2 linked regions of the Homo sapiens genome follow. The protein of the gene in region 1 purifies or fractionates together with the protein of each later gene. This does not show direct contact. Each region holds a gene or a part of one and is shown on either strand. Other genes may lie near its edges.

The links.
Region 2: the proteins of FEV (region 1) and TIMM9 purify together in Homo sapiens (affinity purification with mass spectrometry; one large-scale study listed by BioGRID and IntAct). This does not show direct contact.

The regions. Positions count from the first base shown.
Region 1 is NC_000002.12:218,982,258-218,986,713, reverse strand, and holds the start of FEV (protein FEV), read left to right. Parts: upstream 1-1,529; 5' UTR 1,530-1,638; coding exon 1,639-1,690; exon of another isoform or gene 1,691-1,829; intron 1,830-2,408; coding exon 2,409-2,483; intron 2,484-4,456. UniProt on the Homo sapiens protein: Functions as a transcriptional regulator. According to PubMed:12761502, it functions as a transcriptional repressor. Functions in the differentiation and the maintenance of the central serotonergic neurons. May play a role in cell growth.
Region 2 is NC_000014.9:58,420,889-58,424,697, reverse strand, and holds part of TIMM9 (mitochondrial import inner membrane translocase subunit Tim9), read left to right. Parts: intron 1-602; 5' UTR 603-690; intron 691-3,809. UniProt on the Homo sapiens protein: Mitochondrial intermembrane chaperone that participates in the import and insertion of multi-pass transmembrane proteins into the mitochondrial inner membrane.

The sequences.
Region 1 (4,456 bases):
CATGGGCCCTGTAGAACCCCAGAAGTAGGAGTTTCCAGCCATCCTCAATCAGGCATCCCAGGACCAGGCACTTAGCAGGAGACCTGCCCATTCCCAGGCCTCCTCCACCCCTGGGCTCAAGCAGTGAGAGAGGACTTTGAGAATGCCAGTTTTGACAGTACCCGTTCCATACTGCAAGGCTGCAGAAGGTGGGCTTCTGGGCTGGAGCCTCATCTTCAGCCAGCATCCTCCTTAGCCTGCCTCTCCAGAGCCACGAAGCCCCATAGGTACCCAGAGAGACTCCAGGCCACTTGGGAACCACATCAACATCTTTGCATGAGTTAGAAATAGGAATCCTTTTCTTGGAGTGGATTCCAGCCTTGTACAGTGCACAACCCTGTCTTAACCCCTCCACCTCTCCAGCCTCGTTCAGGGATAGCCAGAATGGGAGTAGTGGTGAGGGTGGGTGGCAGACTGGGAGGACAGGGGATGGGGAAGGATGGGAGCAGAATAGTTGTACAGGGAAGTAGCAGGGGGCTCAGGAACCCATCAGGGAAAGCCAGGACAGATTCTCAACATCTTTAGAGGCCTTCAGCAGTCCAAGCCACTACTAATTTATGGGGACTGAATGAATGAGAAAAGGAGGGGAGGGAGAAGGATGAGAGGGAGAGAGAAGGCTGGAGGGGAGATGAGAGTCGGAGAGAAAAGCCTAGGAGGTAAAGAGAGACCTAGAAGGGGGCGGGGAGGACAGAAGAGGGGGCCACCCATCATAAGTTGCCAGGAGAGATGGCCCAGCACCAGGCCTGAGGCTTGGGGGCCCCAGAAAGGCAGGAAACGGGCCAAAGCAAGAAGGAGACGGGGAAGGGGTTCGGGTCTCTAGGGAAGAGCAGAGAGTGGGAGAAGAGGAGGAGGGAGCGGGGATGCGGGCAGAGATAAAGGGAGCAACGGCTGCAGGGCCGGGCGCGCAGCGACAGGCGAGAGGGAGGGAAGCGGAAATTTAAAAGTGAAGATGCAGATAACGCAGCCTGGAGACGGGAACCCGGGTGGGGATAGAGGGAGGGAGGGGGAGGAGAGTGAGCGGCGAGTGGAGCGGGAGCCGACTGGAAGAAGGGCTCTAGGGAGGGGGCTGTGGCTGCTGGGGTCCGAGGTGGGGCCGGGTACACCAGCCCCATCACTGTTTGCAGAGAGTCAGGGAGGCGGAAAAGACACGCGCTCTAGGCTCCCATCAGGGCACATGGCCCGGGCCCATCCCCCGCGCGTCTCCCCGGCTGCGGGGCGCGGGGGGCTGCCGGGTGCGCTTGGCTGTGGCGCGGCGCGTTGGAGACTTTATTGCGATGGGACGATAAGAGGGGCGGGGGCGGGGTCCTGGGGGCCGAGGCGGCAGCGCTTTAATTAAAACGGAAATTGCGGCCCCGGGCCGCGCGGGGGCCGGAGGGTTCCAAGCGGCCCCTTAGCTGGAAGCGTTTCTCCAGGACCCCCCCGCAACCCCCGCCACGCCCGGGCTGCCCCCTCCCGCCAGGCCCTGCCGGACCCGGCGCCGTCTTCTCCTCCTTGTCACCCGCGGTCGCTTCGGGCGGGGATCGGTGCCACCGAGCGCAAAGCCTGCCTCGCCCCCCTTCCCCGTCCCCCCCATCTCCCACCGCCCAGTCCCCGGCGGCGATGAGACAGAGCGGCGCCTCCCAGCCCCTGCTGATCAACATGTACCTGCCAGGTACCAGGGACCAGCCGGAGGCTGGTGGCACCGGAACCTGGGGCGGGAAGTCTAGGCTCAGGCATGGGAAGAGAGTGCTGGGGTCCAGGGGAAGGAGAAGTGTCCGGAGATTCGGGTTGCATGGAGGGCCGATTGTAATGTAGGGCACTGGGGAGACCTAAAGGCAGATAGAGAGCTCTGGGTTTCAGTGCAGGGTCTAGAGGAGTTGAAATGAGCAGATTGGGAGCCTGGGGGCCAAGAGCCGGGACTCAGGGACCCGAAGGAGCCTGAGAGGGGAAGCACGGGTCTCTGGCGTGGTGGAGTACTCTGTGGCCGAGCCGTACCAGAAGGCTGTGGTCCGCGGGCGTCTCCCCTGCGCTCTCACGGCTCCTCACCTTCCTGCTACGAGCTTCAGGCCGGCCCTCCAGGCACCCTCCTCTTCTCTTCGCGCTCCAGCTCGGCTGGCGCAGTTCCCCGCTCGGCTTTATAAGGCTCCAGCCGGCCCCTTCGGAAAGCGGATTTCCTTTTTCCTGGACGCGTTTCCTGACTTGGGCTCTATGGAGGGGCTCCGCGCAGCGCGCCTGGACCAGGCTCCGGGAGGAGGAGCCGGGTGGCCCGGGCCCCCAGCCTCGCGCCTGGGGACCACAGCACCCCCCTTAAGCCTTGGCCCGGGGCCCTTTTGTCAAGCCCACAACTTCCGCCCGGGGTTCTCCTGATTCTTTTCTTCTGCTGCTTGCAGATCCCGTCGGAGACGGTCTCTTCAAGGACGGGAAGAACCCGAGCTGGGGGCCGCTGAGCCCCGCGGTTCAGAAAGGTGAGATGGCCGGCGCGCTGGGCGGCGGAGGCGAGGTTGGTTGGGGTCAGGGCACAGGCGGACAGTAGGTGGGAGCAGTGTGGACCCAGGGTTCACACTGAAGCCCGGAGTCCTGGCCTGGTTGTGCGGAGGCCTTGGGAAGACAGTCACTTGGTTTTTGGCTCCTGCATCTCCTGAGCACCAGGAAAAGAGTTGCAGGCCAAGGCAGATGGAGAGGATCCCAGCCCCAGGCCCTTTTGCTGCTGTGTATGGTTTTCCAGGCTTTGGGGCAGGGGCTGGGACACTTAGCGTCCTTTCCCTGCTGGTAGTAGGAGCTCAAGGCCGCAGCACCAGCCGGCAATGGAACCGGGGGAATTACTCCCCAAACACAGCGGGCTTCCCAATCACTAGACCCTGGCTACTGCCACCTGCTTCACCCTCCGGCGCTGACTCACGCCGGCTGATCTCTGCTGGCCAACTCTGCCAGACGATTGCAATTGATTCCCAGGTTCACCACCAGCGCTCCACGGGTAGTCGCTAAATTACCCTTTTGACGGCTGGCTCTTCAAGCAGCGTCTCCCCACAGTCCCCATCTCAGTCGTTACCCTAGATCTCACCAAGAGACAGAAACCACAAAAACGAGGTTGGCGACTGTTTTATCCAGAAGGAAACTATGCCCAACAGGAACGGTCATCCAAGCCGCTGAGGTTGCTCCGCCTTTGGTGCCAGGTGCACCTTTGTACCCAAACCTTCCCTTGCTTCTGACCCTAAAACTTAACTCTGGGGACCAGAAACCAGGAAGCTCTTTGCTGGGCTGGCTTGAAGGGATTGGGATTGAAATTATGGGGAAGGGTAGCGTCTGGATTCTAAGCCAGTGGCTGAAAAAGTAAGAGGGGTTCAAAAGACTATATTTGAGGCAGTAAGCAGACCACTTTGAGGAAAATCCGTTTTATTCTAAAAGGGAGTGGGGGTAATTGTATCGGGATTTTTCTCTGCCTGTCTGCTTGAGGCTCCAAGACAGGGGAGCAGGAATTCTGGGACCCCACTCTCTAACCACTCGCATATCCTGGAAAAACCTCCTTGCTGCCTCCAGCAACCGAATTCGGAGGGAGATCACACAAAGACAGGAGGAGGTTGGTAGCCAAGCACAACAGCTGCTCGGTCCGTTCCCCTCCTCAGAGTTGTTCATCAGGCCCCGAGAACTATGGCACCTTCGTAGGCAGGGAATCCCGCCTGTTCCGAAAATAAGAGGCCAAATTCTCAGGGCCAGCGCAGAGGCCTGCGCACCCGAAGGTGGCTAGGATAGTGAGCCCATGAGAGCTTGCCCCTCCTGTCACGTATAGGGGGCCACTGTTCGTTCCTACTCCTGTCGGATGTGGTGTCCCAAGGGAGCCAGCCACCACTCCACCTCAGGAGTAGCCTGTCCAACTACGTCTTTGGGGACTCGGGACTAGCTGGGCCTTGTCCAGCAGTGGTTGGGGTCGTCCTGCTGCACGCCTGTCCCTTCCCACCTCTGGATGTGGTCCAGCTGGGATGGGGCAGTCCGATCATTCTGCCCAAGGCCGCCCTGTACGGTTGTGCGTCTTTTCCCTAAATAAGGGCGCCCGGCTGAGATGGAGAGTGGCGGCGGATATCTGTCCTTGCTCGCCTTGGAAAGCCAAGTGCCTTGGTGCGCCGCTGCGCTCACGTGGGGGGAGGCAATGCTTCCCCTTCCCCCCAACCCCCAAGTTCCACAAAACCGTGCATCTGGAAAGCTACGTGCTCTTCAGTGGAAGCCGCATTTCCATTGTGCAAAAGCGCGGTAAGGCTACACACCACTCTGCTGATCAGCCCCTCCGGGGCCGGCCTCTCCCGCCGAACGCAGCTGCAGTTTGACTTGCACTTTTCCTCCCCCAGTGCCGGTTCCTGCCGGGGTGGGTCAGTTTCCCGCCAGCACTCTTCCCCAGTTCCCGCCTCCCCGCTCCCGCCTGTGGCTGACCGCCCCCCTCCCCACA
Region 2 (3,809 bases), on another chromosome or scaffold:
TGGGGTTTTGCCATGTTGCCCAGGCTGATGTAGAACTTTTGGGCTCAAGCTATCCACCCACCTCAGCCTCCCAAAATGCTGGGATTGAGCCACTGCACCTGGTCAGTCACTTAGCTTATAACATATATTTGGCTATTTGGAAAATATTTTTAGATAGATGATATGTGTCATAATAGCTTATAAGACATTTTATAGGTCTTAAATAGGTCATTTTATAGGTGCAATGGGGAAAATACTGGATTTTGAAGTCCAAAGACCTTAGTTAGGCTCCAGCTGTCCAGTTACTATCTGTATAAGTGACCTCATGTAAGTTTCTTAAGATTTCTGAACCATCCCTCCCAGAATTAGTAGGAAAATCATAAGGGAAGTGTAATGTATACTTATACCTGGATAAATAAGGATAGCATGACATTAAGTATTTTTTTTAATAGTAACACATATGCCAAAGAATTGTAACCTCAGAATAGAGGAAACTAATTTCACTTACTAAAAAGGAAGAAACTTTAAAAAAATAAATGATTAGCCAATAGAAGTTTACATTTCATTGAAAAGACTATTAGAACTTGAAGGGGACTTAGTAATCATATTACCTCATTTTTCAGGTAAGAATCAGGCCTTATTGGAGACATTCAAGCAAAGGTTGGACAACTACTTTTCCAGAACAGAAAGGAAACTCATGCATCAGAAAAGGTTAGAGCTTGATGACTGATAAGATCTCCCTTTATTCTTAAGTTCCCTGGTTCTAGGATATATTTTGTTTGCCACAAGAATAACAGCATCATTGTAATCATTCCCAAGATCTAAGCCAGTGATTCTTGAATTTGCTTATTTCTTCTCTCCCTCTCCAGGTTTCAGGGATATAATCAGAAGGTAACCCCTGATGGGTCTTTGCCACAGTAACATAAATTTGCTGTAATATATGGAAACTAGGATCAAATAAAAGAACAACCACATTACTGCTACCTGTTCTCACCATCAGGTGGTTTATGTGGCTGGTGGAATTTGTTAGTCTAAGCTTACTATTAAATAACTGCGAAGTGAATAGTGAAAAATTTAGAAGACCTCAAATTAGCAAGTAACTCTGAAAATCATTGATTTACTCAGTCATCTCCAGTATTTTCTCTGAACCAGTTGCCTACAATTATGTATACCATAATCTTTTTTTTTTTTTTTTTTTTTTTTTGAGACAAAGTCTCGCTCTGTCACCCAGGCTGGAATGCAGTGGCACAATCTCAGCTCACTGCAGCCTCTGCCTCCCAGGTTCAAGCAGTTCTGCCTCAGCCTCCCGAGTAGCTGCGATTATAGGCATGTGCCACCATGCCCGGCTAATTTTTGTATTTTTAGTAGAGACGGGGTTTCACCATGTTGGCCAGGCTGGTCTCAAACTCCTGACCTCAAATGATCCACCCGCCTTGGCCTCCCAATGTGCTGGGATTACAGGTGTGAGCCACTGTGCCTGGCCTATACCGTAATCTTGATAGATACTGGTGACTACCGAGGATAGCTTTAGAGATTTAAGCAGACTTAAGAAAACTTCTGATTGTTAGCTCTTGAGTTCAACTGTTAGGTCTGGAAAAAAAAAATACCAAATTGGTCTGGGTGCAGTGGCTCACGCCTGTAATCCCAGCACTTTGGGAGGCTGAGGTGGGTGGATTACCTGAGGTCGGGAGTTCAAGACCAACCTGGCCAACATGGTGAAACCCCATCTATACTAAACAAAAATTAGCCAGGTGTGGTAGTGCATGCCTGTAATCCCAGCTACTCAGGAGGCTGAGGCACAAAATCACTTGAACCCAGGAGGCGGAAGATGTAGTAAGCTGAAATTGCACCACTGTACTCCAGCCTGGGTCTCAGAGTGAGACTCTGTCTCAAAAATAAATAAATAAATAAATCTCAAAAATAAGTAAATAAATAAATAAAATACACAATTGAGTGATTCTAAAGAAAATAAATCATAGTGTTAACATAGTGGTCTGTGAATGGTAGAACTATCTTTTGTTTTTCAAATTCTCAATAAATATATTACTTTTATAGTATGACAGACTTTATTTCACTGAAAAGAGGAAACATACACTGTTTAAGTAATGTATATTAATACATTAATGAATAAAGAAGATTCATACCAACAGCACTTGGGGCATTCCTCATATATGTCTTTTCAGATTTTTTAGTAACAACCATCATTTATCACCATGAGATATATAATAAGGACAAGATGTGTGTAGAGGCAGCACAGGGTACCAGTATGAAACTTAGAGAACATTTAAAGATTTCATACTTTCGACTGGGCACAGTGGCTCATGCCTGTAATCCCAGCACTTTGGGAGGCCGAGGCAGGAGGATCACCTGAGGTCGGGAGTTTAAGACCAGCCTCACCAATGTGGAGAAACCCCCGTCTCTACTAAAAATAGAAAATTAGCTGGGCGTGGTGGTGCATGCCTGTAATCCCAACTGCTTGGGAGGCTTAGGCAGGAGAATCGCTTGAACCTGGGAGGCGGAGATTGCAGTAAGCTGAGATTGTGCCATTGCACTCCAGCCTGGGCAACAAGAGCGAAAACTCCGTCTCAAAAAAAAAAAAAAAAGATTTCATACTTTCTGTCTCTCTGACCTCGGGTTGATAAGTCAATAAATAAGAATTTTAACCCAAAGAAATACAAGGATGGAATTAAAAAAAAAAAAAAAAAGAACAGATTTTGGCATTATAAGAAGGAAATCAGCTCTGTGTTATTTTTTGATGTGAACTGTAGAAAGTCCAGTTTGCTGGGTGTCCTCCTGAGGTGCAGTGAGTGTACTGTCCTTATTCGACAATTCAAAAGGCTCAGGTCTAGTAGATGACCTTTTGAACTTTCAGCTAGGAGCCTATTGGTAAACAAAGTTCCTTAATGCATATTTTATTACCCTTGTATTTTTTTTCAAGTTCTCACAAAACAGTGATTTCATTTAATACTTCTTTAGAAGTTGTTTTACCAGTTCTTAGATCTTTTCAGACTGTTTTCTGAGTGGGAATCCAGAAGAACTCTAGCTTGGAATGCTTGCTAACAGTATCTACCACGCTGCATGTTGTTCTTTGGCAGGTACCAGAAAGTTATACAATAACATTTTTTTTCTTTATTATTAAACTTTTTATTTTGAGGTTAGTGTGGATTGAAATACACTTCCAACAATTAACACAAAGGTCCCCTGTGTCCTTTACCCAGTTTTCCACAATGGTAACATCTTACAAAACTGGAGTACAATGTCACTCACATCCAGGATACTAATATTGATACAATCAAGATACAGAATATTTCTATTACAAAGGTCTTGTGTTGCCTTCTTATAGCAACACCTACTTTCTTCCTACTCCTTCCCTCATCCATTCCTTAACCCTTGGCAACCATATGTTCTTCATTTCTGCAATTCTGTTATTTCAAGAATGTTGTATAAGTGGAATTATACAGTATTTAACTTTTTAGGATTGGCTTTTTTCCTCAGCAGAATTTTCCAGGCTTTTGCAAGTATCAATACCTCATCCTTTTTATTGCTGAATAGTATTACAGGTATAGATGTACCAATTTGTTTAACCATTCACCCACTGAAGAACATTTGGGTTTTCAGTTTTTGATTATTAAGAATAGAGTTTCTACAAACATTCACATATAGGATTTCCTGTGAACACAAATTTTCATTTCTCTAGGACAGATGCCCAGGAATGCAATTGCAGGGTTATATGGGAGATGAATGTATAACTTCTTTAGAAACTGCCAAACTCTTTACATTCCCAACAGGAATATGTAAGTGATTCAGTTTTTCCATGTCCTCACTAGCAT